Linked DNA regions of Homo sapiens: all the other regions are reported to be linked to region 1. Evidence: microRNA targets listed by miRTarBase, many of them from high-throughput screens and not tested one by one. Region 1 holds a microRNA gene; each other region holds the end of a gene's coding sequence.

The links. Region 1 holds the annotated microRNA hsa-miR-200c-3p (UAAUACUGCCGGGUAAUGAUGGA, at 2,269-2,291, opposite strand). A microRNA usually pairs through its seed, bases 2 to 8, with sites in the 3' UTR of a target mRNA and lowers its output. Matches are read on the target gene's strand: a 7mer-m8 pairs with bases 2 to 8, a 7mer-A1 pairs with bases 2 to 7 and ends in A, and an 8mer does both.
Region 2: the mRNA of ERRFI1 is a reported target of hsa-miR-200c-3p. Seed matches in the 3' UTR shown: 7mer-m8 at 4,792-4,798, 7mer-m8 at 4,217-4,223 and 7mer-m8 at 3,826-3,832.
Region 3: the mRNA of ATP6V1E1 is a reported target of hsa-miR-200c-3p. Seed matches in the 3' UTR shown: 7mer-m8 at 732-738.
Region 4: the mRNA of RND3 is a reported target of hsa-miR-200c-3p. Seed matches in the 3' UTR shown: 8mer at 3,493-3,500 and 7mer-m8 at 3,349-3,355.
Region 5: miRTarBase lists SECISBP2L as a target of hsa-miR-200c-3p. Seed matches in the 3' UTR shown: 7mer-m8 at 3,185-3,191, 7mer-m8 at 423-429 and 7mer-A1 at 201-207.

What each region holds. Positions count from the first base shown.
Region 1 is chr12:6,959,696-6,966,032 of GRCh38, reverse strand. MIR200C (microRNA 200c) reads right to left here and starts at 2,334; the gene lies at 2,267-2,334. It overlaps PHB2 (prohibitin 2), which reads left to right. Exons shown (of 10, transcript NM_001144831.2): 9 at 117-122; 10 at 321-706. The coding sequence ends at 348. It overlaps MIR200CHG (MIR200C and MIR141 host gene), which reads right to left and starts at 2,788. Exons shown (of 2, transcript NR_135032.1): 1 at 2,685-2,788; 2 at 1,586-1,832. MIR141 (microRNA 141) reads right to left here and starts at 1,936; the gene lies at 1,842-1,936. It also overlaps LOC105369634 and PTPN6. RefSeq lists enhancers at 1,042-1,091, 2,874-3,675, 3,917-4,126, 3,935-4,453, 3,676-4,475 and 2 more.
Region 2 is chr1:8,007,984-8,013,978 of GRCh38, forward strand. It overlaps ERRFI1 (ERBB receptor feedback inhibitor 1), which reads right to left. Exons shown (of 4, transcript NM_018948.4): 4 at 3,744-5,995. The coding sequence ends at 5,227. Among named protein-coding and RNA genes, the nearest start is that of ERRFI1, 15 kb to the right of the region's middle. RefSeq lists a silencer at 1,646-1,940.
Region 3 is chr22:17,587,104-17,593,301 of GRCh38, reverse strand. ATP6V1E1 (ATPase H+ transporting V1 subunit E1) reads left to right here. Exons shown (of 9, transcript NM_001696.4): 9 at 566-1,166. The coding sequence ends at 628. SLC25A18 (solute carrier family 25 member 18) reads right to left here. Exons shown (of 11, transcript NM_031481.3): 8 at 6,001-6,166; 9 at 5,223-5,377; 10 at 3,637-3,712; 11 at 2,307-3,207. The coding sequence ends at 3,066. LOC101929372 (a long non-coding RNA gene) reads left to right here and starts at 4,110. Exons shown (of 4, transcript NR_171783.1): 1 at 4,110-5,435.
Region 4 is chr2:150,464,904-150,471,240 of GRCh38, forward strand. It overlaps RND3 (Rho family GTPase 3), which reads right to left. Exons shown (of 6, transcript NM_005168.5): 6 at 3,292-5,335. The coding sequence ends at 5,084. Among named protein-coding and RNA genes, the nearest start is that of RND3, 20 kb to the right of the region's middle.
Region 5 is chr15:48,988,967-48,995,064 of GRCh38, forward strand. SECISBP2L (SECIS binding protein 2 like) reads right to left here. Exons shown (of 18, transcript NM_001193489.2): 18 at 1-3,960. The coding sequence ends at 3,278. Among named protein-coding and RNA genes, the nearest start is that of SHC4, 28 kb to the left of the region's middle.

The sequences.
Region 1 (6,337 bases):
TATCTTTTCTCTTGGGAGCAAAGGAGGGTTCAAAGCTGAGTGGGGCCTGAAGCTGTCAATTAACATGTGCATTTCTCTTCTCTGTTTCTTGTTCATCTGGCGATCTGGCACCACAGGGGAAGGTAAGCTGTTGTTGCTTCTGTGGGGTCCTGCAGGCCACCTTCTCCAGTACCCGCCTCCTACCCTACCCCCTTTCCCACCTCCCCGAAGACAAACCCTCAATCAGGGTAGGAGGGTCGTAGAGGGAATGGCCTAGAGTGTCCTGCCTCTCACATTTATGTCCCCTAATAATGTCATTATCTATCTTTTTTTTCCTACAGTGACAGCCTCATCAAGGGTAAGAAATGAGCCTAGTCACCAAGAACTCCACCCCCAGAGGAAGTGGATCTGCTTCTCCAGTTTTTGAGGAGCCAGCCAGGGGTCCAGCACAGCCCTACCCCGCCCCAGTATCATGCGATGGTCCCCCACACCGGTTCCCTGAACCCCTCTTGGATTAAGGAAGACTGAAGACTAGCCCCTTTTCTGGGGAATTACTTTCCTCCTCCCTGTGTTAACTGGGGCTGTTGGGGACAGTGCGTGATTTCTCAGTGATTTCCTACAGTGTTGTTCCCTCCCTCAAGGCTGGGAGGAGATAAACACCAACCCAGGAATTCTCAATAAATTTTTATTACTTAACCTGAAGTCAAGGCTTCACGTGTTCATGAACTGGGTAACTGGCAGCAAGCATGCGCACGTTCACATGTGCGCTCCTGGGTCTGTCTTTGTGTGTGCCAGCAGGGGGCGCAAAAGAATCTGGCTGGGGCGGCTAAGGGGAAGCAAGGCCTGGGCTCCGAAACAGGACCCAAGCTGGGAAGGCTGGCCCTGAGTTCTCGAGGCCCAGCTGTGCTCTTCACACACCCTCCATTTCTCCCACATCACCCATTTTTTTAAGGCTGGACAGCCATGGCTTTGCTGAGCCAGATTAAAAATCTGATGACCCCAACAGGAGCTGCTTCCTTGGCAGCAGGGTTCCTTGTGGCTGTGGGGAGCCTGCCTGTGCCTGTTGAGGCACTTCTGTGCCCAGAAGCCCAGTGGATCGCGTGGCCTGCTGTAGGCCCCCCAGACTCCATTTCTCAGTCACCAGGCGTGAGGAGCTGCTAGCTAACAGGCCTCCCCTGGGGAGGTGGGCTTTTCATGCCCGCAGTTCCGGGGCCAACAGAACAGGTGCCTGTCTGTTCAGTCCACAGATAAGCTGACACTTATCTTCCCAAGACAGGCCTTCCCGAATCTCAGGCACCAGAGAAACAGAGCCACCGTTTATACCTGAATCTCCCACTACTGCCCATTTCCCATCCCTGCGGGGAGACAAGGAAGATGTGGAACTCAGACAAAACATAGGTGCAAAGTATGTCCAGGAACTGCCAAATGCAGATAGGGCAGCAGGTGGATCTGAACAGAGGGACTGGGTTAATCTGCTTCGATTTTTAAGATATTTTTCTCTGCTTGGGGTTGAGTATCATGAAAGACAAAGCAGACGTCGCAGCCCCAATCCTGAGTTGCTGGGAGGCTAAGATGAGATAAACAACTAGACAAAAGACAGGTCAAGTGACTTGGATCAGTCTTCCTCATGTTCCCCTTCACACTTTATTTATTTCATGCTCCCAAGGCGGGAAGACAATGGAGGTGCCTAGGGAACCAGTGTTTCCACATCTTGCTGCAGCTGTAAAGGCAGCCATTTTGTCTCCTTCCCATTGTTCCCCTTTGCCTAGTGATTCGTCCCCCATCCAGAGGGGTGAAGGTCAGAGGTTGTTGGTCAGTAGTCCTCCATGGTCTTCAGGGCTCCCTGAAGGTTACTGCCGAGAGAACCCACCCGGGAGCCATCTTTACCAGACAGTGTTAGGAGCTTCACAATTAGACCATCCAACACTGTACTGGAAGATGGACCCAGGGCCGGCCGACAGAGAACTACGGTGCGCGCTCACCAGTTGCTACAGGGGACCCTGGCCACAGGCCAGGTGAGGTCTCTTGAGAGGGGGCGAGCCAACCCCAAGCTCAAGGTCGACTGTGGGTTCTGGATCCACCAGGTGACAAATCGCACTGGGTGGGAGGAGGGGCTGGGGCCCATTGTGTCCCTTAGTGGCAGCCAGCCAACAAGAACCACCCCTTGTGCAACGCTCTCAGCTCAAGACGAGGGGCTTCCGGGGTGCGTGGGAAGTGGGGAGGGGGCTGCAGCCAGCTAAGGGCTGGGGACCTGAGGCGATGGATGTTGCTGACACAGGGACAGGGGCCTCCATCATTACCCGGCAGTATTAGAGACTCCCAACCGCACCCAAACACTGCTGGGTAAGACGAGGGCCCCCGCCCAGCCCGCCCACCTTGGGTCAGGCAGCTTCAGGCCCAGGATCCCTGCGGAAAAGCTGCAGATCCCTGGCTCCCATCCCCCCACCACCCGAGTCCCTGGGGACACTTCCTGGTGAGCCCTGCTGCCCGCCACCAGCCACACCCTGGGTCGCTGATCACGAGGCCCAGGTTGCAGTCCAAGCAGGCCCTCCGAAGCCCCTCGACCGTCGGCCCGCCGCCTCTGAGCCACCTTCCCCTACCCCCGGCAGCCTTTCCCGACCCGCGACACACACCGATTTACCCACCCTCATCCCCCCTCTGCAGTCCCAAGCTCAGCCCAGGACCTCTCCCCTGGTGGCCTTTACCTGTCACCGGGCCCACCTGCCCCCAGAGAGTGGGTGCTGGGGAGACGAAGGGGCTTTAAGGCCCCAGATTCCACGGCCTAGAGCCCGCCCTGGCCTCCGCTCTTCCTCCTTCCTTCTCCGCCTGCCGGGCAGCCAGCGCAGGCTCCTTACCTGGGCCCCGCCTGCCACCCTGCGCACAGGTGTGTCCTCCTGCCATAGGCTGCCCCCCCACTGCCTTAACCCCTTCCCTCCCAGCGCCAGCCACGGGCACCTCCTCTAAGGCTTGGCCACTCCTCTAGGCCTCCCACCCTCTCCCAGGGGCCTCTTTTCTCCAACCTGCCTAGTCTCACCCCTGTCTCCAGAGGTACAAAAAGCGGGGGCTGTCCTTGGGTCCCCTCCCCACAGCAGATGCTGCCCCCAGGACTAGCCCATTCCTCTGTGGCCTCAGACCCTGCCCACAGCGGAGCTGCAGGCCAGAGAGATCCCTGAGGTCAGCGAGGGGTCAGCTGGGCAGGAGTTGGGCTGTGCCGCCCCGCAGTGCCCAGCCTGTGCTGGGATCCCCTGAGGGAAAGGGGAGGGAGAAGGCCCCGCCAGGCCTGTGAAGGGCAGGCGGGTCCCAGCAAGGTGTCGCTAGTGTGAAGTTACCCACCGCTACCCAGAGACCCCAGCTGGCCCGGAGCATCAGCCTTGCCCCTCGATTGAGGCCTGCAGAGGGAACGATCGCGCTCCACTCTCCGGACCGAGCTGCTCCCGGACCCACCTCACAGCACAGCCCTCAGTGGAGTCCAAGTCCCACCCCAAGGGCAGGTAGCCCAAGGGCGGTTAGAGGAGGTGGGACTTGCCTTTGTGCAGCTGCGGCTTGTATAGAAAGGGCGTTGCTGGGAGAGGGGACCTGGGCCCGACAGGTGATTGCCCCACCCGTGCCCTGGAGGGCCACAGCCCCAGGGAGCTATTGGGTTGCTCAATCCCTCGCTGTTCTCTCTCCCAGGCTTTGTTTGCTTCCTTCTTAATACCCGCCTGCAATTATTTGATGCTTGTGATCGGTTTGTGAATCTGTCTCCCTGACCAGCCTCCTAAGTTCCAGGAGGTCGGGGGACTGTGAATGCCTGTGACGCCGGGGGCTCTGTAAGGATTTGCTGAGTAATGCACGCCCAGCCTCTGGGCTTTGGGACCTGTGCTGTCTCAGCCTTTCCAGGAGTGGGCGCCAGCACTTCCTGAGGGATGACTCCCACCGGCTTTACTCCCCAGGACACCAGTGTTTCAAATAAAGAAGAAACCCCACTCCTGACATGGGGGAAGGAAGAGGGGACAAAAAACAAAGCACTCTTCACGTCAGCCAGCTCTTCAAACTCTGCCCAAGAGGATAAGGGCAGCAGCGGCCTGGATGAGGGGAGGAGCTGGGCGTGCCCGGGTGCTCTGAGGAGCCTGTCCCTGTTCCCGCCAGAGGGGACGCAGCCGGGCTGGCCTCAGGTCTGCGCTTCCGGCTGTTAACTACTCTTCTTAGTTCAGATCTGGAACTCAGCATCAGGGGAGTGTGATCAGGGCCCCCCTGAGGGTGGCCCCAGCTGCAACTCCAGGGTAAGGAGTGTGGGCTCTGGGGTCAGACAGCCTGGGTTCGAATCCCAGCCTCACTGTTCCATAGCCCTGTGACCTTGGGCAAGTGACCAAGTTACTTAGTTTTTCTGTCCCTCAGTTTCCGCCACGGTAAAATGAGAATGACAGAAGTGCCTAGACTGAACTAACGTGTGTAGTCTTTTAGTGCCTGGGCACATGGCAAGCGTGTGATGAGTCACTGTGCCCGTCTTATCGTCAGCCGTCATCTCGGTGCTTTTCACAACCACCCTGTTATGATCGCCCTCCATTTTAAAGAAGGAGACTGGGGAGCTTCACCCACGGTCACCCTCCCACGTGCGAGGCGGAGTCCCGACCCACGTCCGTCTGACGGAAGGCGGAGCTTTCACGCGAGGCACGCACGGAGGCACACACAGTTACCCATCCTGCCCTGCCCTCTGGCCGCCCACTCACTGGGCAAGCAAAGGGCTCAGAGGCGACACACAGTGATCCCAGGGCTTTATTTACAAGAGGAGAAGGGTTGGCCCTGCCTGGGGCCTGGCTGGGCTATATACAGGGTCAGGGAGAGGTGGGGGGGATGCAGCCATTTAAATTACAAAAGAATGGGGCACTCCTAGGTTCAGGTTGTGAGTCTGTCCATCGCGAAATGCTTCCACAGGGTCAGGGCTGAGGCTGCCAAGAGAAGGGAGTGAGGGAGTGAGAGGGTAGCTGGAACCTGGAGGTGGAACAAGAGGGTCTGGGGCAGCTGGGAAGCACAGAATGAGGCTGCGGCCACCCCATCCACCCAGGGAAGGCAGTGGAGCCAAGGACACAGGGCAGGGCAGGGAGGACACCCAGGCAGAAGAGCTGTACCATGGCCACCTGAGGACAGCACCGCTCACTTCCTCTTGAGGGAACCCTTGCTCTTCTCCTTGTCTGCTGACCGCTGCTTCTTCACTTTCTCCTCCCTCTTGTTCTTAGTGTGCAGGTTCTCATACACATCCTCCTTGTGTCTGCAGCCGGGTGCAGGGGGGCAAGTACAGGCAGTTGGTGCAGGTCAGGAGACAGCACAGGGGGACCCGGCACTGGCAGTCCCCTCTGGCCACCCCGTCTCACAGGTGACGCAGCCACGGTCCCTGCACTAGACTCCAAGCTCCTAGAGGACAGAGGCTACATCTCATACACGAGTGCGCTGCTGGTACCTAGCAGAGGCCCACACGTGTGGGCACTCAGGAAATGCTTATGAACAGAAGGGGTGAGAACCAAGCCTGAACTTGAAGCCAGGTCCCCCCAGCTGCAACACTTGTCCTCTCCAGAAAGTGAGGATCGGGCTGGGCAGGACAAAGGGGTGGATGCCGGGCAGTGGCAGTCAGGGCCACTCACTTGGACGAGGTGCGGGAGGCCTTGGCATGGGCATTCTTCATGGCTGGGGGATAGGTGATGTTCCCGTACTCCGACTCCTGGCCCTTCTGCGACTGTGGGCAGAGGGACAGTGGGAAGGTGGTGGTCCCAGCAGGGCCAGGTGGCACCCATCCTGCACTGCAGCCCCCCCCCCCCCCAGGCCCTGCTCTGCACGCACCTGCAGGACCTCCAGCTTCTTCTTAGTGGTTTCAATGAACTGGGCGATGGCCACGTAGATGAACTTGTACTGCGCCTCCGTCTGCACCATGCCCGAGCGCTGCGCCCGCACCATCTGGATGGTCTTCTGGATGTCAATGTCACAGTCCAGGCCTGGGTGGGGGGCAGTCAAACCTCAGGTCCAGGCATAGGCGGACACCGAGGGGCTGCTCACCCCCCACCCCCAAACCCCCAGGTGCCCCTCACCCTTGGTGGAGATGTTCTCCATGAGCATGTCGATGACAATGATGGTGCCTGTGCGGCCGATGCCGGCGCTGGGGAAAGACGGGGGTGCCATCAGAGGCCAGTCAAGCCCTCCCCGGGAAGGGGGGTACCCAGCGCTCAGCTCCAGCCCCAGGCACCACAGGAGCAGCCTGAGCCTCCAGTGATGGGAGGGAATGTGCCCAGGGTCACCGGGCAAGTGATGATGGAGGTTTGCCCAGCTCTGCATGGACACGCTCCACCTCGGGCTCTGCGGTGCTGACGCTGGCTCCCCAGCTGCCACC
Region 2 (5,995 bases), not on the chromosome of region 1:
ATCACTGGGGGAATCTGGGTAATGGGCATAGGGGATCTATTTTGCAACTTCTTTTGAGTGTATAATTACATCAAGATGAAAAGTTAAAAAAAAACTATATAAGAAATACAAAACTGTGCTAGGAGCTTTACTTATTTTTAAGAGAAAAGCTCCAGTATATCCTAAAACTATTAATTATGTGATGAAATTAAGAACCAAAATAGAGACTAGCTTAAAATACATGTTGATTCTTGAACCAGTAGATATATGAATATGGCTTTTCTCTAGTCAACTGTGAATTGCTCTGGAAGATGAAACTCTATGGCCTTTTATTTTATTTTTTAGGGTCCCTAATAGTGAAGAAGCATCCTCTTTTTTTTTGAGACGGAGTTTCACTGTTGTTGTCCAGGCTGGAGTGCAGTGGCTTAATCTCAGCTCACTGCAAATCTCCGCCTCCCGGGTTTTAGTGATTCTCCTGCCTCAGCCTCCCAAGTGGCTGGGATTACAGGCATGAGCCACCACGCCCAGCTAATTTTTTTGTATTTAGTAGAGATGGGGTTTCACCATGTTGGTCAGGCTGGTCTTGAACTCCTGACCTTAGGTGATCCACCCGCCCTGGCCTACCAAAGTGCTGGGATTACAGGCGTGAGCCACCGCACCCAGCCAAGAAACATCCTCTTAAAGAGAGTTCTTACTTTTCACAGCATAGTTAAGACATCTCTTGAGACCTAGAGATGGATAAGCAACAAACAGTATTAAACTTCCATTAGTGTGTTTTTGGAATTTATTAAAAACAAGAGGATACACATCACATACTTGACTGTTGCAGCATAAGAACTGACAAAATTGGCTGGGCGCAGTGGCCCACGCCTATAATCCCAGCACTCTGGGAGGCTGAGGTGGGTGGATCACCTAAGGTTAGGAGTTCGAGACCAGCCTGGCCAACATGGTGAAACCCCGTCTGTACTAAAAATACAAAAATTAGCCGGGCGTGGTGGCAGGTGCCTGTAATCCCAGTTGATCGGAAGGCTGAGGCAGGAGAATCGCTAGAACCCTGGAGGCAGAGGTTGCAGTGAGCCCAGATGGTGCCACTGCACTCCAGCCTGGGTGACGAAGACTTTGCCTCAAAACAAAAAAACAAAAAACTGACATTTACTATTAACCCAAATTTTGAATTCACTTGTAAGAGAGCCCCCTTATCCTCGGCTTCTGTTTGCTGCCACGAAATGGTATCTACTAACCAGTCCCTTAGGTGTGCATAGCACTACAGTGCGCTCTGGCATGGCCTCACATATACTGACAAGGAACTTAAAGCTCAGGGAAGTGAAGTGAATCCTTCCTATAGAAAGTGGGAGGTCAGCCAGGCGTGGTGGCTCACACCTGTAATCCCAGCACCTTGGGAGGCCGAGGCAGGCGGATCACCTGAGATTGGGAGTTCAAGACCAGCCTGACCAACATGGAGAAACCCTATCTCTACTAAAAAAATGCAAAATTAGCCAGGCGTGGTGGCGCCTGCCTATAATCCCAGCTACTTGAGAGGCTGAGGCAGGGAGAATCGCTTGAACCCGGGAGACGGAGGTTGCGGTGAGCCAAGATTGGTGCTACTGCACTCTAGCCTGGAGCCTGGGGTGACAAGAGCAAGAAGACTCTGTGTCTAAAAAAAAAAAGGGAGAAGTCAAGACAGGAACCTGGGTTTTAGGCCAGTACTTTGTTGTGTGACATAACCATCTTTGAGAACTCAACAGTGCATAAAGTGGCAGCTAACACGCAGCTGATTTCCTATTGGCATCTTACTTAGCAACAGAGAAGAGTGTCAGAAGTCCCGGGCTTGACCTATGCCACGAGAACTCTTTAGAATTAACTTGCTTTGTGTGCTGGTTGAGGAATAAGTTGACAGGCAGAAGGTGCTAGGGGATGTGTTCCGGTGGTAGTGTGGCATTGGCATGGCGGCTAGGCACATTTGCTTAGCCAGGAAAAATCAGGGAAAAGGTATATGCTTGCAAACACAAGTAAAAATACAAAGGTAAGATGGAAAGCAAACAGAACTAATGAAACATATTCTTGACCATATGACCAAGAAAAGGTAGTGGAGGGGAGGGGAGAGGCAAAAAGTCTCAGAAGCAGACAAAGTTCTGCAAGTGCTGCATTCAGACATCCAGTCAGCAGGGACTTACTGCACCCCTGGGTCAGGCAGTGCGTCATGACAGTGCACAGGAAGCTGAGTCCCTGCGCTTGGGGAGCTGTCCCTCTTTGGCCAGGGTGCCGCGCACACGGGCCTGCGTGATCTGGAACTTAACTGTTTCTACTACTCCCAGGTATCTTTTACTGTTTTTCTCCATCTCCACTGGCCAAGGCAGTCTTGTCTCAGTTCAGGACTACAGTAGCCTCTGTCCATTAAGTCTTCCCGTTTCCTTTTGCTTCTCTCCGATCTGTCCTCCACACAACAGCCACTGTCCTCTTAAATCACATCACCTTCCTCTCCTGCTTAGGATCTTTCAGTGGCACCCACTACACTTTTCCAGGCCCCTCCTCCTCCTGACAGCCACTTTCTGGAAGCTGCTCAGCTGTTTCCTACTTCAGGGTCTCACACATTGTCTGCTTCCTCCACTGGTAACATGCCTACCTGTTCACTCCCCTCCCTCAGCTTCCATTCTAACCCTTCAGAGCTTAACACCTCACAGGTCCCATTATCAGTCCTCATTGCTCCCATTGTTCATTACCTTTTTATTTAGCACTTAATATAAGATGTAATCATAATTAACATTATCTGCTTTAAATTCCATAAGGGAAGGGGATGTGTTTTCGCAGGATCCAGCATGGGGCTGGGATTTAACAAATGTCTGTTGACTGAACGTCCCAAGCCTGCATCTTCATCTGTAAAATGCCATAAATGACACCCAGCCTTTAGATGACAAAAACAGTTCTCATGTATGGGGCCCTCACTATGTACCAGATAATATAGTTTATATGCAGTTGTCACAAAATAATTCCCACCTCTCTGCCCATTTTACCAATGAGAAAACTGAGCTACAGGGATTTAAAATAATCTGCCTCACACAGAATTAGAAAGGGATGAAGTTGCAACTTCAACCCAGATAATTTGAGCCCTCACTCTTCACTCTGGAGAGTGGCAAGACAGTGCAGGTGCCCGATGAAGGTCGTGGAGGGCTCCCACCCTCTCCCAGGGGACAAAGGAGCCTGCAGAGGACAGTGAAGAGAACCAGGCACAGGGCTAGGTGACATGGGACTAAGCCCCCTCACAAAGAGCACTCCAGCCCCTGCCTCCATCCAAAGGCTGCCAGGAGCCCATTTGTCCACTGTGGACTTGCCATCTCCATGACAGGCCAAGGCAGGTGCAGATTCCTTGGGTGGCCTTAAGCAAGAAGCAAAGCCTGCCAAAGGGCCCAGAGTAACCGGGACCTCGTCCTAAAAATCAGAATGAGTCAAACCAAGTCTACACATCAGAACTGGTTTCTTCTGTCACGTTCTCCTTGATGTGGACTCCCACCCCCAACGTTGTTTCTGATAGTAACCCCAGAATCCAGTTCTCTTTCAGTTGTTAAAGGTAAAAACAAACAGCTCATTTCCACTGTATACTTTCATAATATGTGAAAAAGATTGCACAAATTATGTTTCATTCTAAAGAATAAGAGTTTCAAGAATACATTAAACTTCAAAGAATCTTCGCTTGTGCTTAAAAATAATGCTGTCAAATTGCTTCATACACTTTATAAGACTTTAGGCAAGAAACATTACTAATGGTATCATAAATAAGTATTATAACTTTATTAAAATGAAAAGACAATATTCAAAATAATGCAACAAAATGAATAAAATCCTTTGTCCAATACTGTACACATAATGCAGAAATCAGTGCATTTTTCTTAAGCATGTTTTAACCTTCATTTAGTTCATACTAAAATATAATAAGCTTTAAATAGCTCAAATAATATTCAGCAGTTTAAACTGTAAACAGCTTGTTTAACTGTTAAGAGAACATTGCAGTAATGTACCTCTGTTAGTGAGCACCTTCTCTTCTGTGCTTATCTCTTCAAGATAAATACATGGAAGGATGTGAAAATCGGAACACCAACTATGTGTCTCACTGCATCTAAGTGAAGCAGCCACAGCTGTGAGAGTTTTCAAAGCAGAAAGATGCTGATGTGACCTCTGGAATTCAGACATACTGAGCTATGGGTCAGAAGTGTTTTACTTAAAAAGCAAACAATCCCCAGGAAATACTGAATAGGAACCAGCAACACAAGGCCAGCTTGTGTTGTATGTTTATTAATACAGTCTAAAAAAAAAAAGCAAAACCACAACACACATCCCCAAACAATAACTCTCAATCACATAGCTAATTGCTTCATTATTTTGTAAAACTGACATCCTAACACTGGCACCTAGAATACTTTTCCATCTGAGTCTAACGTACCCCACTGCCTCTAATACGGCCCGCACTACGATGAGCTACTTCAGTGGGTGGGACCAAGCAGGAACTGTAAGGGAAAATTAGTCACTAGTTCTATTATCGTTTTATTTTTCAAGATGTGTGACAGGTACAGGTGACAATATGGTTGCCAAGTAACCTGCTCTCCCTCCCTCAACAAGACGCAACATGAAACCTGGAAGTATGAGGCCTTGGTATGATTTTTAACCTAAGCAGGTACACCCATGGTAAAGAATGGATACCCTGCCCTCCATGGAAAAGATTGCCTGCAAAAATAAATGGAACAAAATAGAAAAGGCCTAAAAGCCAGAAATCTTCAAACTTACTAAACAAAAATATTTTTTAATGATTCTGATCTAAACAATACTGTATCTTCTTCCATTTGCTCAATTTTCAGTCTATCAGGACTCATTTCTCCAGCTTGAGTTTATTATTCTGAATATATATTACTCTACGATAGTAACTAATTGGTTAACCTGCAGCTATGGTCTATGGTTATACCACAAGTTTATATATAGGTATGTAATGTATGCATATATAAAAAGCTTCCCCATCCTCCCCTCCCCACCATCACATCTTTAAATTATAGACTTGTAAGACTTTTTTCCAACACTAACAAAGTCAGGGTTTCTCAGCATAACAGCATCTCACAACTGCTCTAAACCTTCCACATGAAGACAGAGAGTTCAACTATTTTATTTTGCAATCTAAGGGATTTTTCTCTGCACTTCAATCAAACTGGAAAATTGAGAACCATTTGCTCCTATGTAACCTCTGCTGAACCATGACCCCAAGGTCTAAGGAGAAACCACATAGGATAAATGTTTACGCTTCACGTGGCCACCCAGATCCATTTTTGTTTTTGAGTCTGGCTTTTCTGTGGCTGAAGATATACCGCAGTCAGCAGGTAATGGCTGGATTTGGGCGCCTCCATTTGTTTCTTCTGCTTCCCTAAAAAATTTTTCATATTTGTCCAGGTATGGTGGTCGTTCAGGTAGTAGGTAATAATGTGTTGAACTAACCTTCTTCCCATTTTCAATAATGGGCAGAATGCAAGGAACCTTACTGGCAGATCCTTCGCTGTTCTGTCTTTGCAGTGCTTTGCTGCTGACATACTTGGGATCAGGGGCAAAGCTCTGTGTCGGGGGCATGACCCCATTGAGGTAAGACGGAAGGCTTTTGGGACTCGGTGTGCGCGAGTTACTCGGTGACAAAGGTTCTCTTGGCGGTACTTTGGGAGGCCTGTCTTCATCACTATAGGTGCTCGAAGTAACTTCTGCTGACCATCTTCTATAATCTGGCTTTACTGGTCTAGGAGGTATGGGAACTCTGGGGGGAACCTCAGGTTTGTCTTCATCGGAGTTAGGAGAAGCTCTGTGTATACAACAGTTGGATATCCTTATGGCTGGCTTGTTAAAGGAGCCAGCTGGTCCCGAATGAGACCTTCTTAATCTTCGGTGGGTCTGAGGTGGAGGAGGATTTGGATCTGGGACACCTCCATTTTGGTCAGACACATAGCTGAGATCTGCTGCAGAAACAGCTGGGGTATCAAAATATGCATAGTTG
Region 3 (6,198 bases), not on the chromosome of region 1:
CTTTAGGTTTTTTTTTGTTTTGTTTTTTTTTAATGTGTCCCTTTTGTAAGCAGTCTGAACCCCAGATTTGGGATGAGTTAAGTTTCTCACCAAGGAATGTGTTACTTGCTTCAGGGAAGGAGAGGGTGGCTTTGATGTGCGTGGCTTTGTGAGTCCTTCCCAGCCACATAGAGGTTCATGGCTTTCCACCTGTGGTTAAGATGTGCAGCACTCTGGCCAGGCTTGGTGGCTCACGCCTGTAATCCCAGCACTGTGGGAGGCCGAGGCGGGTGGATCACGAGGTCAGGAGATCGAGACCATCCCGGCTAACATGGTGAAACCCCGTCTCTACTAAAAATACAAAAAAATTAGCCAGGCATGGTGGCAAGCACCTGTAGTCCCATCTACTTGGGAGGCTGAGGCAGGAGAATGGCGTGAGCTTGCAATGAGCGGAGATGCGCCACTGCACTCCAGCCTGGGCGACAGAGCGAGACTCCGTCTCAAAAAAAAAAAAAAAAAAAAGATGTGCAGCGCTCTACAACTTCTTCAGCTGACATTGCGTATTTATTACACTTTCTCTCCACAGATGATGCCAGAAGTCCGGGGAGCCTTGTTTGGTGCAAATGCCAACAGGAAGTTTTTGGACTAAGCCTTCAGGAGGTGGAGCTCGTCGTCAGCTCTCCTGCTGTGATGTGGAAGCTTCTGATATTTGAAGAAACACGAATGTCTCTGTAGCTTCCTCTTCACTGCCCCAGTATTGCTCTGTATTTATCAGCGATGCCCCTCTGTCACTCATGCCTTGCCTAATTGTTCACAATGGTGGAAAGCTTCATGTAATATGATCAGGACCCACCTCCAGTTCTTCTGAAAGTGTGACAGTGTCCAGCCGGTTCTGCAGCACTAGGGGAGGGGGCAGATGGTGGTTGCATGGGCTTCCTGGGTCTCCACTCTCCGTCTGGCCTAAAGGTGATGTATTTGGTGTTTGGCCCTGCAGTCCCCACTCTTGAGGCTTAAGGCGCATGTGGCACACCACTCCTTCCAGCAGTAGTCGCTTTACTGTTACCTGTTTAGGCCTAGAAGTTTTCCCTCATCTGTAAATGTGATTTAAAATCTAAGCCATGAATATGCTTTATTTATTAAAAGAGTTATGCGGATTTAATGTGATTTCTAGTGTAAGGCACTACAAATTTAGGTTTTGACAGAGTCAAATTCTTACTGAGGCACCTAGAAAAGAAGTATTTTCCCAATCCCCGTGGCACTTGATGGTGACAGCTGTCAGCACCTGGACCCGTTAACCCTCTGGGGGTCCCCTGGGCTGTTGCCCGTTGTTCCCAGCCCATCACCAGGAGCATTCTTTCCACCCTTGCAATCTTCCACACACCCCACATGGCTCTTCAGCGTGACGTGCACAACTTTATTGAGGAAATAGTTTTATTAGTGTTGCCCGAATGAGAAAAACCAAGTTGTTTGTTTTTTCTTTTTCTTTTTTTTTTGAGACGGAGTCTCGCTCTGTTGCCCAGGCTGGGGTGCAGTGGTGCCATCTCGGCTCACTGCAAGCTCCGCCTCCCGGGTTCGTGCCATTCTCCTGCCTCAGCTTCCGGAGTAGCCGGGACTACAGGCGCCCGCCACCACGCCTGGCTAATTTTTTGTATTTTTTGGTAGAGACGGGGTTTCACCGTGTTAGCCAGGATGGTCTCGATCTCCTGACCTCGGATCCGCCTGCCTCGGCCTCCCAAAGTGCTGGGATTACAGGCGTAAGCCACGGCGCCAGACCCAAAAAACCGAGTTATTTTGGAGCAGGTCACTGTGTGCTGGAACCAGATCCTTTCACAGAGGCCCTGTTCTTCCTTCCCTGTCCCATGTTTTATTTTTCCGTAGGTGACGACTAAGAGCTGCCCAGGGCCTTGCAGCTAGTACATGGTGGAGCTGGGACTTGAACTGAGGTCTGTCTCCAGGGCCCATACTCAAATGCAGTTCTCATAACAGAGAGTGAGGCCCCCAGGGCTGACCATGTTAGCACCATCCTCTTCCTTGTTAGCCCAGGTTTCACAGTAGATGGGACTATTGTAAACACCAGCTCCTGCAGCAGGTGCTGATTTTCTTAGGACTTGGCCCTGCTGCTGTGACATTATCTCTCCTGTAGCAGCCTTTGGGGGAGGAATCGAGGTGCGTGAGGAGGGCTCTCACAGCAAACTCAGCTCCTCAAGACGATTCACTTATGAAGGGATAGAATCAAGGCTTAAAACCCAGTGTCACTAACAAGCAGATATTTCCCTATGGCTGTGTTCCTCCACCCCCACAAGTAACAGTTTGAAGAGTGACGGGGGTCTGCTTCTATGCCCTTTTTAATGTTTGGTTTTGAAATGGACGTAGAAAAGTAGATGGTGATAGCATTCACTGCAGCCTATCTGCTGTACCCACTGATGAACAGATGAGATTTTAGCCATTCACCTTTATTTCAGAGTGTTCCTTGGTTACAGGGAGGGGTGTGCAAGACCCTGGGCTCTGGGGGAGGGGCTGAGCTGCCCAGTCAGAGCCGGCCTCAGCCCCCTCAGCCATCCAGGGATTCGAAAGGGTGCTTGGTCTCAAACTAGGTGCTGACTCTGAGGGCTTTCACGGTCCCTTGAACTTCTGATCCTCCTTTTCCTCAAAATCAGTGCTAGGACTCATAAGTTATGGAGTCCAAGATTAACAATGCTAAATCCTCAAGCTGACTGAAGAATGCCGAGTTTGACTGTGAAATAGAAATGTTAAAATACAGAAACAACCCTTCTATTGTGACTACCTGTTAAGGTCCTGCAATTAATACAACGAAAGTACCATTTTTGTTGAAAAGTAGGTGGTTAGGGGCTTCCAAAAGCCCCTGGTAGCTGTGCCCACAAAGGAAAACGAGTGTAGACACGAAGGGGAAGAAGGCTGTGCTCAACTTGTTAGAATATAGGGCTGTTTCTCCCGAGATTGAGGTAGCACTACAACGCAGAGGACCAGGCAGGCCAGAGTGGCCCCACCTGCCCTTGCCCCCTCTAGGCTAAGTGAAACAGCTAGAGAGAGGGCGGCAAGCGCAGGGACTTGACCTCCAGCTCTGTCTAGTCAAAACACTTTAAGATGCGCTCTCCAATCCCAATAAAATAGACCCCTTGAGCAATCCCAAAGAGAGGTGCTATGACCAGTGCCCGGCAGCCAGCGCCTTTCATGAAGGCAGATGGTCCCTCCTGAATCCAGAGTTTCCTGGGGAGAAAGAAGAGCCAGTGAGCTGATGGGCAGGGGCATTCTGCAAGCAGCCCTCAGTGGCAGCCTCTCCATTTGTGCACCTCTCATTTTAGAATAGTGCCTTCCACAACAAGAGCAAGAGGCCAACGGTGTGGGAGCTGTGCCTCGCCCGCTAGGTGCATGCAGGTTGGTTACTTATGCAGTTGGGTCAAGGCCTTGGAAACAGGCTTGATGTGGCTAGAATCTTTGGTGAGAGATGCTGTAGGGATGCCAGGAAGAAGAAAAAGGCTCCCAGTACATTCTGTTTTCTTTGAGAGGTGAGGGAAAGACAGACTTCAAAGAAACCCAGAGCCCAGCAATTCAAGTTGGTCTCTAAATCTGGTCTAGGCAGACACCCACGCAGAGGAACCTGTCCCAGCCACCATTTGAGGGGACACTGGCTCTCACCTGGCACAGTCGGTGATCCCACTGTACATGTCCTCGCCCAGGCCTTTCTTGAGGGTTTGGATTCGAGTTTTCAGAACTAAATCAAGTAAAAGTTAAAGTAAGTAGTGAACAGCTTACTTTCGGTGTCCTCCCCTCAACACTAAGGGGCTGGGCCCTCCTGTAGAGCCACCACATATAAAACTGACTCATAGGCCGGGCGCAGTGGCTCACGCCTGTAATCCCAGCACTTTGGGAGGCTGAGGTGGGCAGATCACAAGGTCAGGAGTTTGAGACCAGCCTGGCCAACATAGTGAAACCCCATCTCTACTAAAAATACAAAAATGAGCCGGGCGTGGCGCGTTCCTGTAGTCCCAGCTACTCATGAGGCTGGGGCAGGAGAATCGCTTGAACCAGGGAGGTGGAGCTTGCAGTGAGCCGAGATTGTACCACTGCACTCCAGCCTGGGCAACAGAGCAAGACTCCATCTCAAAAACAAAAAAAGAAAAAAAAAAACGGTCATGAGGCCAGTTCTGCCATTGTGTGATCTGTAAGTGGAGGTCTTCTTCTTTGGGCCTCAGCTATAAAATAAATGAGTCATGTTACTGTGGCTTTGTTTGGTTTTGTTGAGACAGGGTCTCGCTCTGTTGCCCAGGCTGGAGTGCAGTGGCACAATCAGCTCACTGCAGCCTCAACCATCTGGGCTCAAGTGATCTTGCCACCTCAGCCTCCCGAGTAGCTGGGACTACAGGCACGCACCACCACACCCAGCTAATGTTTTCATTTTTTTTTTTTAGAGACAGGGTCTCACTTTGTTGCCCAGGCTGGTCTCAAATTCCTGGGCTCCTGTCTCGGTCTCCCAAAGTTTCGGGATTACAGGCGTGAGCCGCCGCACCTGGCCAGGTTACTGTTGGTATAGGAAGTCTACCCGCAAGTTTAGGGAGCTGGAGGCAGCCCTAACACGGAGGGAAGCATTGTCTTCTCATGCCAGGTTTAGCTCCCACCATTAGCCGCAAATTTTATGTATTTATTTACTTTTTGAGATGAAGTCTTGTGCTGTCGCCCAGGCTGGAGTGCAGTGGTGTGGTCTTGGCTCACTGCAACCTCCACCTCCTGGGTTCAAATGATTCTCCTACCTCAGCCTCCCAAGTAGCTGGGACTACAGGCATCCGCCACCACACTCTGCTAATTTTTTTTGCATTTTTAGTAGAGACGGGGTTTCACCATGTTGGCCAGGATGGTCTGAAACTCCTGACCTCAGGTGATCCAAAAGTGCTGGGCTCCCAAAGTGCTGGGATTGCAAGCGTGAGCCACCACACCCAGCCAGCCCCAAATTTTAACACATCAGCAATAATTTATAGCTGGGGCTCACAACTCTTCTGAGGGGATGAAAAGCTAAAGCAATCAGCATCTTGAAGGCGAGGGATGTGTCAGGGATGAGAAACAGAAGGAAGGTCTCTTGGGACCCACTTTCTCCATGAGGGCCTCTAGTGAGCCTCCGCCAGCAGCCAGATTGCAACCCAGTATGGCTTCCAGGGTCAGGCTGTTTTATCTATAAGTGCAAAATTACTGTTTATCCCATAGAAAGGACACGTCTCCCAACTCCTTACCATCTAGAGGCGTCACTGCGACCGCAGCTATGGAACCTGCCACACAGCCTGACACGAAGGAATGTGCAAAGGACGCCTTACCGGCGAGCTCGTTGAACCCCAGGTTGTTAAGGTTGGCAAACAGTGGGAAGTAGATGATGGAGAAAGGAATGTCTCTGCAGAAGAGGAAGGAGAAACACTGAGCTCCGAGCTGCCCTGGGGCTGCCACCCAAGGTGAGACAATGAGCTTTGCTGTGAGCTGTGGGGCTTACAGTGAGAGGAGCCACGGGGACTCATCCCTTCTTTTGTGCCCCGTGAGCGTGGGTGAGGGACAGCAGGGGACAAAAGAGCTGTTGCCATCTGTTCCGCCGTCCCAGCTCCTTCCTCTGCCCTGCAGCACCTGCAGCCTCTTGACTGCCAGAGGCAAGTCCGAGGCGGGAAATGCGTTCTGTACAGGGGCAGGCAGGCTAAGGGAAGATGAGGGGCCTGGCCACTCATTACTATGAACTCTGCGGTCCTCTGTAGACAGGGCTTTCTTAGGTGCCTTTGGGCCACAAAACACCCAGCCTTCCTGTGGGCCTGGTCATCACTATGCAAGCGGCCTAAAACTTTAGTCTTCTAGGTACCCATTCTGTGCCACCCTGGCCAGTTCCAGACAAAACAGGAAGCATGGAAATCGTTTGCTCACCTGGGTTTGGATATTCTGGGAAGGACACAGAGGCAGATAGGGACAACCAGCTCTCTGGCCCTCGTGCCCTCCCCCGTGCACTTGTCCTAGGGAACCGGAAGAAAGGCTCACCTGAGGAGAGTGGCACCCAGGCCCCTGTAGAGCCCAGCCAGGCCCTGAGTGCGGAGCAGCTCCCAGGCAATGAGGGTGGCAGAGGGGCGCCTGTGGGTGGAAGCCGAACCAGTTGTGTAGGACCTGGAGGTGGAGGGTGCTGAGGCCGAGCCCTGATGATGGACGGCTGGAAGGGAAAGGACAGACATCAGTACCTGG
Region 4 (6,337 bases), not on the chromosome of region 1:
ATATTGGATGAAAACTTTCACAGATTTATTTTATCCCAGAACACTGACTCTTTTTCCCTCCAATATTCTATGCCTTGCAGGACCAGGACCATAATTATCATCTATCTCAAAGGTGCTCAGGAGGCAGATATTAGAGGGAATATTTACTATGAATGTTCTCATAAAAGGCCAACAGGATGAGGTGATTGTCCAGGAGCTTTGAGGGCACTAAGTGAAAAGAGAGTGATTTCTGATCTACTCAGGTGCGGCAGGGAGGCCATGTGTGAAGGGAGTGCCCAGGGTCTGTGGTAGCAGCTCCATGAGTAAAAACCATTGCCTCATCATCTAAAGAAGCCAAAAGCAAGGGGTGAAGGAAGAAAATAGTTTTGTTAGTGTACCTGTATTAGTTTCCTATTGTTCCTGTAACAAATTATCACAAATGTAGTGGATTAAAACAATATAAATTAATAATCTTACAGTTCTTGAGGTCAGAAATCTAAAGTAGGTCCACAGGGCTGCAACTCTTCTGGAGGCCCTGGGGGAGAATTCCTTTCCTTGACCGTTCCAGCTTCCAGAGGCCAACTGTATCCTTTGGCTCATGGCCCCCTTTTTCTGTCTTCAAAGACAGCAGCATAAGCCAGGCATGGTGGCTCATACCTGTAATCCCAGCACTTTGAGAGGTGGAGACCAGGAGTTTGAGACTAGCCTGGATAACATAGCAAGACTCCATCTCCACCAAAAAAAAAAAAAAAAAAAATTAAAAATTAGCCAGGTATGGTAACATAGACCTGTAGTCTCAGCTGTTCAGAAGGCTGAGGCAGGAGGGTCACTTGAGCTCAGGAGTTCAAGGCTGCAGTGAGCTATGATCATATTACTGCACTCCAGCCTGAGTGACAGAGAGTGAGACTCTGCCAAAAAAAAAAAAATCCAGCAGCATAGCATCTTCAAATCTCTCTCCATCCTTCTGCCTGACCCTCTGTCATCTCTGTCATCACATTGCCACTGTCTGACTCTGATTCCTCCTACATAATTGTTATAAAGGTCTGTGACTACATGGGCCCTCTCTGGATAATCCAGAATAATCTTTCCATCACAAGATCTTTAATTTGATCACAACTGCAAAGTCCTTTTTGCTATACAAGGAAACATTCACAGTTTCTGGGATTAGGAGGTGGACATGCTTGGGGAGTCATTATGCAGCCCACCACAATACTTTATGTTGCTTGAGTCTATTTATTTATATGCTGTAGTTTTGTAGAAAGAGTCATATTCATGGAGATTATGTTCAGGAAAGGAGAAAACAGAAAGGGAATTTATGTAGCCAAGTATATGAACAAGTGGTAAGAGGCAAGAACTATGTTCCCAGAGCTGAGAGGAACCTAAAGTTGTAAATAAGTTACCAACTGCCTCTGGGAGACATAAAGAACGAAGGGAGCGTCCTCTCACTAGCAATTGATCATCTTCCGTATGTGGTGTAACATATGCGGCTATTGCATTAATGTGCCTGGCTATGTATTGGAATATTTAGTGCCTACTCACTTTCTTTGATTCAGTTTATGTCAATGGAAATGACAACCAGTTCTGGTGTACTATAGTTTGGTAGTGACTGTCTCCCACTACTACATTATAAATTCCCCATGTGAGAGACTGTATTTAATTCATGATTATGAGCCAAACTCAGAAAAGTGACAGGCATGTAGTAGGCACTCAATAAATATTTGGTGAATAGAAAAATGATAAAAATAAAAACTTTGAGGTTAAAACAGAATGCTGGTGTCAAAATAACCCAGTAGAAAAAGGATAAGCAGCTTTAAGAGTTTCAGGAGAGTTAGAAGATGAGGTCATTTAAAAAAATTCTTTCTAATAAAAATAACTCCCTGAGTTATTTCTAAGTTTGTACTCAAGACAGACTCCCTGCAAGACTAGAATCTTCTAAGAAACTATTCCTGTAAAAGATTAAAATGAGAGAGACACAGTGTAAGTCTTACTCAGAGTTTGAAAACCACCTTTTAGTATTTAAAAAGGCATTAACCATGATCATTAATCAATAGAAAGGAATGTTCACAGAATGCTTAGAAGAAATGTTTGCTAAGGCAAGAAGTCAGAGAAAACGAAGGCATCCATGCCCAAGGCTGAAGACAAACGTTTTTCTTTTGCTTCAACAAATTAAAGCTGCTAGGAAAGAACAATTGACCAGAGAGGAACATTACTGTACAGCATATAAAATACTGCCAAGGTCAGCAAAACCTCAGCTTTTTATTTATTTTTTTATTTTTCTGTGCCAGTGATTGTTGAGAAATGAGTTTCTTGCAAGCCTGACTTAGACATTATGCTCCGAAGTTACTCAACACGAAGGATTTGGAAAGTACTTTTATTTCCTTTACTATTTGATGACGAGAATGAGTTACAGACATTTTCAGTAAATCTCTGTGCTTAAAATTGTTTATAAGGCCATTTCATAATGTCAGTGTGCTTTAATTTGTTCACTCATGCTGGATTCTCTGCTTCCCCCTTTGCTTTGGGCTTCTGAGAATTATTTCCAAGCAAATAACTATACCTCCAAGATTCCCAAAGCCACTCAGAAAAAAAGAAGCCACAAGGATGCATTTTTTTATATGAAGTGACTTAGCTGTGTAAAAAGAAGCACTGTTTTAAAATCCCACAGAGTATCTTTGGACACTTATGTAAAACTTATATGTAAGTATTTTAGCTGAAGACTGAGAATCAACTGGATTTATGGGGAGATAGTCCTCTCTTTTAAGCTGTTCCATGCTTACTGTACATCTCCCAGATCAGTGGGGTAACTTGTATTATGTTGTGCTGTGTTATTTATCCTTCCACGAATTGCTGCAAAAGCTGTGTTCTGGGTCATCCCCACAACTGCTGTGAACAAGGGCATGCCTTGCGAGGTGGCATGGGTTAAGGACCAAGGCTTAGGACCCCACAGGGCAGAGAGGCAAACTAGGCTTATATTAGTATTAAACCTGTGACTTGAGACTGCATCATATTGCTTCATTCTTAAAGACTTGAAGGATTTCCATCTTTTCTACAAGTTAATCTTAGGCAGTATCATAGCTCTTTTTTGTATATGATCAAATCACTTAATCTAATTATGCCCCATTTTTTTCTTGTGATTTGAAAGCATCATGAAAACTTTTATATATGCAGGTTTATCTGTTACTACTATGAAGAATCAAAAAATTCCAAAGCCTTCTAGTTCAGAAAACGTTAGGCCAGATTCTGTAATCACCTATGTTAAAGAACAAAGCTAAACAGCTAAATCAGGAAGTAGATAATAAAAGACAGATCACATTTAGACAAAGACATGGTTACTTTTTTATTTGAAGAAAAAAAAAGTATGTTTTAATAAATACTGCGGAAACATTGACCAAACAAACATACACAGTGACTTCAACAGTTTAAAAAATGCAACAAAAGTTCTGCTTTATAACAGTTATAACTTATTTTCTTTTTACAATATTTAAATACAGAAAGCACTCGCCAGCTATTTTGTAATACTGCCCAAAGCATAATGCTGCATCAATCAAAGCATATTATGTTGGTAAAATGTCTGTATTTTATGGGAAATGACTGGAATCGAATTTTCTTGCAGAGACAAGACAAAGTGCTTGTAAGACATAGAACTGAGTGTTGTAATTACCTTAATCTCTCCTGCCACGATTTAAGGGGAGCACAGCTTCAACACTTCAAAAACGAAGCACTATCATGGGAAAGAAAGCTCGTTTTCAACAAGCGCCAACAATAAACAGGTCAGATCTGGTTTCTTCTCTGAAAGAATCTCTAAAAGGAACTGGTCAAAAATATCTGTAAACTATTTTAAATGCTTATTATTTTACGTAACAACAGAGACCAAGTGCTGAACACAGACCTTGGCTGCATCTGTTCAGTGAGGTTTTAGCAATGACACTCTAGAAATGCCCTAGTGTTATGTCAGGACTGAAAGTTTATCATATAATCTTCCACTAGGGATTCTCTAAAGCTTGGGTAAGTGGCATCTTCTCTCATCAATGTTCATTTAATGAAAAGTGAAATAAACCAACAGATTATCAGATGCTGTCAGTTTTGGAGCTTCAACCCAAAATAATAGTCCTTTTGCTTTGTATTTTTGGTAACTTAATTCCAGACAGCTTTACTCACAAACTGTGCTTTCTGCTACTATTCTTTCCTTCACTCATTACCTTTTCTGGTGAAAACAGTAACTACCTTTTTTCTCTCCTTGGATCATTCTATGACATCAAACCAAGACACCTTTTATTTGACTTTGCATTTTTATCAACGATGGCAAAAAATCACACAACTTCTAAACAGCGCACAAAAATATTACATTGAGCAATTTACCACTTTTTAATGACAATCACAATGAAGAACAGAACCATCAGACTGAATAAAAATCGACATTTTTTTTCCTATTTGATCTATGCGATCTTTGTAGTGCTGGTCTACAAATCTTGCAAGATTGCAAAGGCTTTCCTTAGAACCATCCTACTCAGCTATCTTCAGGAAGGCAAGATTTCAAAGCCTCATAAAGTTTGCCTCTGGATATATCCCATGGGTCCTGATACAATTTCCTTTTTAATGATGAGCTAGAAAGAAATTAGATCACATCCTCTAGAAAACTAAATGCTAAGGTCACAGTGCCAGTTCCCCCTTGAGGACGGTATATTAACGTATACTTTTTGTAAAGGAGATTAAAACATTTAAAAATTAAATCAAAGTGGAGATCCATGAATAGATTATAACAAAAAAAAAAAACCCAAAAATGCAAGCACCATTCAGAGTGTGATTTTTCTTCTTGGAGGTACTCGCATCCCCCCTCATCTTCCTCTAGCTCATTTGTATCTCTCATTTTTTGGCATATTTTTCAAGTCACACTTAAAAACTCTTCCATGTATTCACTTCTCATCACTTGGTCTACATGCCGAACCTAAGGTCAGGATTCCAAAAAGATGAGTATCCTCTCAAACGCCTCCTAAGCCTCTGGTATACATGACTTTGGCTGTGCACTTCATTTAGACTTCACCTTTTTGTTTGCTGTTGTTTTTTACACTAGATTCCTTTGTCTTCATTAAAGATAATGAAAGATTCACATCACAGTGCAGCTCTTCGCTTTGTCCTTTCGTAAGTCCGTAGCAACTGCCGAGAGTTCTGGTCTGCTAGGCATGTGTGAAATCCGCTTTGTGGCTCTCTGTGATTTGTTCCGCTTAACGTTTTTATTTGTCTTATTTACACATGCCAAGGTGGCAACGTGAAAAATGTCTCTGACGCTATTTTCCGACTGTAAAGCTGAGCATTCGATATAAGTAGCTGCTCCAATCTGTTTGGCCATATTTGCCCCCTGAGAAGCAAAAGAAGGGATTTTAACCAGCAATAAGACTTTGGGGGAAAGTTAGCTAGCATCTTCTAATACCACAAAATAATAACACATTGCAAAACGTTTGCTGATATGTTAACTGAATTTTCCAAGTGTCATTGCAAAAAAAAAAAGTTGTTAAAATGTAAACTGCCTTATTTATTACTTCATAACTATTTGCAGTCCAGAGCCCATCCCTAAGATGCCCAACTCTCATGGCTCATTAGAGGTGTTAGAGCTCTGAATAAATGCTAAAGGCTGATCTTAACAAAGGAAGACCCTGGTTATCAAACACTTAACATGAGGTGATTCAAAGAAGTGTAGAGTGGAGCTAACGAAGTGATTCATCTTCACTATCAACTGCAAGCAAGAGTTAACTGGTTATTCAGGTTTTCCAGGGTCACAGCAAGCATGGAATGGCGCAGAGAAGCTTACTAGTGAAGTAAGTTAGCTGAAGGTCATGAACATAAACTCTGCATTTTCCACACAGCTCTGGCCGTGGCGATGTGGCCTTGAGAACCTGTTCCAGCGCCTCATGGTGCACTTCATTTCTCTTTTCTTGAGGGTAAATGGCATTCAAGACTAGTGACTAGGTTGTACCAAAAACAGGGGCAATGAATGAAATTTAAAATCGATTTTGAAATGTATGTGATTGTGTCTTACTTAGGGCCGAAATGCGTTGAGGAAAGGAATAATACTATTGTAACATCTGTTACTTTATGAAACACAACATATGTAATTTCTAAGTGTGAACCATACCACCAACGTACACAACAATAAGCATGTGCACATTAACCAAAACTACTTATTTAAAATACCAAATTTTTTGCTAATGAGAAATGGAAGACTAAGAAGACTGCGGTATTTAAAATGATGATTCTTAATAAAATTTTGGTATTTCAACATGAACTCTCTTTAGAATCTGGTTGTAGGTTTTATGAGAATGAGCTTTTGAAACTGATTCTCATTTCTAAATACTTGGGGGAA
Region 5 (6,098 bases), not on the chromosome of region 1:
TTCTGTGATGTATGTAAAGGTTGGAAGGGATGAGGGAGGAGGAAGATGTCTGTAAATAAATTATTTCACAGAATTTTTTTAAATCAAAAAAAGATAAAAATTTTTAAATGAGTTGATGTTCTAACCTGTTGGCCCAACATACAGAAAATACATGACAAGGGTGTTTTTTTTTTTTAAGCAAACAGCAGCTTTACAAACAGTAATACTTCTTTATACATATATTAAAGTAACAATGTGTTAAGATTGAACAGTTTCATGTTAAAGAGTTGAAAATGAGTGTAGCATTCACTACTCATTTGCACATTTCAATTCCCACCCCTCCCTCCTCCCCCAGCTTATTTAGAAATCAGACAAGTACATATTTGGATATTAATTTCTCAGTATTTAAACTATGTGAATTCCTTTTGACTAATTCTTTTCCAAATACTGGAATCATATAAAATACCATCTCTGCAAAAACAACCTCCAGTCAAAGCCAGTAAAAACTTCTCAATGTATAACACACATTACTTTTCCACATTTAGTCAAAAGAAATATATTACATCATTTACAAACATATTTAAACCGAAAATTAAGCTAATATGAACATCTGTCTTTTGAGAAGTAATCTTCACAGCAAACAAACCTACTGAAGCAGAAATCTAACTTTGGAAGTGTAATTCATATTTTAGTTAATATGCTTACATACTGAAATAGAAATCTATTATTAATTATTGCCAGTAAAACCACCTCTACACATTAAGAGAAAAAATCACTATGTTTTTTATTTCTTGTGATGATGAACCAACCCTTACTCTTCCCACTGGATCTCTTTATAGGTCTTCAAAGAGCCAACCATGCCCACTTCAAAAAATATATAAAAACTTTCCTAATTTTCACAACTCCTCCAAAGCCTGTAATTCAATATTCCAAAATTTAAAGGAAACAAGTTATAAAGACATTATTAATATTTATTTAAGCATGCTCTCAAAATGGTAACATTTCCTTTAATAATTCTTGGGTTGTCCTCTAGAGGTGACCTGTCTCATAAAAAGGCTATGGTCCCTTGGATTTGCTGGCAGAAGAGGTACTGCATATGCGAGAGCATTTACCGAACATATAAATAAACACTTCTGAAGTCTATAGCAAAACTAAAAGTTACCAGTGTTCTGAAGATTTCCTCAACTTCTCTTTTGATACAAATGTCAAAAATCTAAAATGACAATTCATGTTCAGAAGAGATATAAAATATAAGAAACCTGTGAAAAGCCATCATCTCAAGGTCAAGAGTTATCTGAATCACTGACATCGAGCAAAGGAAATTTACACCATAAAAAGTATGAACAGTTTTTAAATTCACTTTTAAGACTGTCAGTAGTTCAAAACCTCTATCATTTCTTTAAACCAACGAACACTTCCAAATGTGTAGAGACAGTAAGATCTGCCATGTATAAATCCATGAGTACTATTTCAGAGGCTTCATTCCTTACCTGCTGTGTTCCTTTAAATATTGGATATTTAGTGCCTAGGAAGTCTATACTGGAGAACAGTTTAGACAGGACAGTATAAGAATGTCCCCTTTTAGCACAATAATAAAGTTGATTGACTAACATTTTCTACACAGCTCCTGAACTTTCACAATTCACAAATACTAAATCATCAACCAAGAATCCAATCTCTCCAGTAATTAAATGCCAGCATTATAAAACATCAAAACTAGCACAGTAGTCCCAATGAGTTCAGTAAAGAATCTGCCCAATTCTTCTCTCCTGCCTCTGTGAGGCAAAGCCCTGCCCCAGATAATCAGGGCAGGGATAATACCCCTTCCTTCTCAGTTTTGTGCCTGCTTATGGAAGCTTGTAAGTGGAAAACACACACACGTACGGATGTGTGCATGTGTGTGAGGGGGGTGGGGGGGACAGTTGGGGGTGGTGGGGAGTTGGATGGAAGACAAAAAAATTACATAGTTTGTCATTCTTCCACCATTACATAAACTTGTAAAGTCACTGAAGTCCAGGTGGTGACTGACTAGCAAATAAAACATTTAGCTCATTTATTGTCTCCTAAGCAGGTATACAAACTCCTAGAGAAGGGCAGAGATAAATAATAGTGAATAGAGAATTAATACCTACATATCTGTATACTCTAAATCATCTAATAGTTTCAGCACAATTAGAACAACTTTCTCTTATCTTCTAAAACTTCCTCCTCTAAGCCTTGATTATCAGGATACATGTCACAAGTTGTGCAAAGTTCCTTTCCTTGACCTCCTGACAGTAACTATGGTCATTGCTATGTGGAAGGTGCTCAAGGCTAGGTGCAAAATAGGTATTTTTTAAAAGGTGAAACAGTTTTGCACTCAGGACAAGTTTGGATACTCAATCAAATCCATATCTCAAATCAAGAGTCCTGAACCAGAAGCATGCAAGAGAACACACCAGTATAAGACTCTGTTTCTGAAGAGTTTACATGTAAGTGCAGCAGTCATACAATCGGTTACAGTTATTCACCTGTCAACATGTGCCTAGCTTTTTGTAAATAAGTCTATGTACAAGAGCATTCCTGAGGTAAGTAAGAAGCAAATATGAGACAGAACCTGGAGGTCCTATCATGGGTGACTGTTCACTATTATAGACAGCATCTATCACTTTCCACAAATGAGGCTAGCTAGCTATAATCTAAGATGGTGGCTCCACTGCTAGCCGAAGTTTTGAAGGCTCTGTTTTAGCCCATCCCAACACTAATTAATTACAATAATCAGTGACTTCTGACTAAACATTTGTGGACCACATAAAAGTTGCATTGATTTTTTAACATACAACACTGGTGGACTTAGTTACCCTCAGCCTTTCATTTAATTTTCTGACTCCACCCCCAGTTCTTTTTTAAAGAAGCCCAAACAATTTTTTGGTCAAATTAGAGTAGAGGAGGTGGAGTCCTGAAGCAAACACTGATAACTGCTTCTATCCTTAGAACCTTGTTCTTTAACTTTCAAAATGTCTTTTAAGTAAGCATTTGAAATTTATTTTCTTTAAGATCTGGTCTTCTTTTTATCACTGTTTTTGATTACAAAATAAGCTGAAACAGATCTGAATTTTCCACACAGTTCTTAGAAAGACACTTAGATACTAATTAAAAGCTAAGCTACAGATCATAACAAGTAAAAGCTACAAAAATATTTGTTGGGAATTAAATACGTATATTAAATACTGGACAGTGCAAAATGTTGAGATGAAGCATAAAAGGTAATGGCTGCAACCCTTCCACAGCTGGAGATAGAGAGCCGACATTTCCTGAGTTACGTAGTTTGCGTTGTGTAATTAGAATCAGAGTGCTCTTTGTTGAGCGAGCTGCAGTTGCTGGACTTCTGCTGCCCAGGACTGGCCTGCTGGTCAGCAGTCCATGCCTCACTGTCCATCCCTGGCTCCAGCACCTCAGGCGCCTCTGCTTCCTCTTCTCCACTTTGCTCTACATTGTCTTCCTCAGAACCATTAAGGGTTTTTCCAAGCTGAAGGGTTTCCATAGTTCTCTGGGTCTCTGAGACCCAAGACTCAATTCTACTATTGAGCTGCACTTCTACAGATATGGGTTCATGAGTATAATCTTCCTCCTCCTCCTCATCTTCATCTTCTTCTTCTTCAAGCATGCCAGGTACAAGAGTGCTGGTGGTGCTGGTGATGGAGGAATTCAAAAGATCTCGGCAACTGCCATCCAAAGAGCCAGTCTCTGTACTCTGCTGTGAGGCCCATTCCAGGTCATCTGGCTTCACTTCCTCTTTATCACTTGCTGTGGATTTCCCAGCACTTGTAGCTGAGGTAGTACTGCCTGTAGCCACTAATGATGGCTGCTTACCAATTGGGGGTGTGTCAAATGGAAGTTTACTGGGTTTTTCAGAAGTGCTGTGCTTACAGGATACCTCTTTCTCATTTTCTGATGCTTCCAGTCCATCTGAAGTTTCCACCATGTTTCTCCAATTTGTTTCTACAAGTATCAAGCAGATTTTTTAAAAACCAGAACACTGTTTCAAAATCATGCAACTCTTTAAAAACCCCCAAAAAAGAAAGAACAACAAAATATATAAATTTGTTGGCTTAGAAACTGACTGGAAAAACTACAAATTTAGTTTATTTAGTACTAGTTTGAGACAGAGAGAGAGTGTGTGTGTGTGTGTGTGTGTGTGTGTGTGTGTGTGTGTGTTTCAGATGGGGTCTTGCTCTTTTAGGCTGGAATGCAGCAACATGATCTTGGCTCACTGCAGCCTTGACCTCCTGGGCTCAATCTATCCTCCTATCTTGGGCTCCCAAAATGCTGGGATTACAGGTGTGAGCCACTGTGCCCAACCTAATTTAAATGTTATAAAGGGAAAATAATTCCCAAAAATGTACATTCAAGATAAAGAAACAGGGAGGTAAAAATAAGTATATTAACGCTTCAGAATGCAAGAGATCTTATACCAATAGGAGCTCACTGGCATTCACAAATAAAATCCATATATTCATGAAAATCAATAAACTGCCTAACTTTTTGGTAGCCTAGAGGTGTAATGGGCTCAAGGACCCACAACCCAAGAGATAGAAGAGCCAAGATGTCCAGCAATAATAGTTCTGATTCATGTGTTTGTACCATGCTCACTCAGCAAGTTATTTAAATTATCTTTTGGCCTGTAATGGGACATGTGTTTCCAATTATAAGCAAAGAATCCATCCATGCATTTCTAACATCTGTGAAAGGTTGTTTTATAATATATATATATATATAGCTTGGCTTACAAAGTGATTTTGGAGGACAAAAAAAGTATTATATACTACAGTGATGACAAACTAAATTATTTCTCATGATAGGAAATCAGTTGAAGGCAAAAAAAGTACCAAGAATCAGTAAAGATCTCTCACCCCTGTATTTTTTCAAATTTTTTTAAAAAATAAAAATTCTATCATATTGACATTACAGCTACTATTTGCAGTTTATAGGTATAATATTCTTATCAAGTTGTAGCAAACCTATTCACATTAGTATGTTCAATATGGTCACCATCTATGGCCTATATATTGATATAGAACATGTTTTGGGCACTTCAAGTCAGGATACATTGTTTGGGAAAAAATTTCTTTCCTGAAGCTACTTTAGTGTAGAATGAGTCCTTTCCACTGTCATTTCTACCTTATGAAAAAAAAAAAATCACCTCCTCCTATATTCTCATTCTCAGCTAATGACATTATCATTTACACAATCTCAAAGCAGAAGACACCTTATAGTAACACTTGATCCTACTTTTCTCTCTTATTAGTATTATATCCCTTTAGTCCACTGAATTCATCACTATACCATGACACCTGTAGCTCAAAAACTACTAAATCTGTTTACTACTCCCTTAGCTCAGGCCTTCTTTTTCTTGCTGTTCATTTGTAACATCTTCGTAACCGGTTTTGTGAACTGATTATATCATTGTCTAACTGGCTTTTTATCACCCTAGGATAGAATCCAAAATCCCTGGCGTGGCACAGCAAAGCCCTTCATGATCTGGCCCTTATCTATCATTCTGGTCCTACTGCCTTCTGACCCTGCGCCATAGGCCACACACTCCATGCTCAGTGTCATCTAAATTCTCACTGTTCCCTAAAGTTGGAACATCAGCTGTACTCTTTCTGCAGATGTGTTTTCCTCCTTTCCCCTTCAGACTCCTATTCATCTTGATAACCACTCTTAAATGTTAGTTCCTTCATGAAGTTTTTCCTAACTCCTGACAGGCAATCGCTAACCTGAACTCCCACAGTACTTTTTACATATACAGTCAAAAGCCTTGTTTTGTGTTTGCTGTTTCACCTTCCTCATCCCTCCTCACTTCCACTCCAGCTCATCTCTGTGTCCCTATGACTGGTATATAGTAAGTGCTGGGGAAAAAAAAAAAAAAAAACAGTCTAGTAAGTGAAAATTTTCCCACATATATTTAATTATGAAAAAAAATTTTAAAGGCACAAAATGTTTAAAAATTTTAGATGCACATTAACATTTCAACAGTTTTTTTTTCTAAGGAGAAATCCAAGACCCCGAGATTAACTGATTACACCTAAAACCTTTAGGCAGAGTATAGAAAAACCAAGGCTTCAATCTTTGAACAC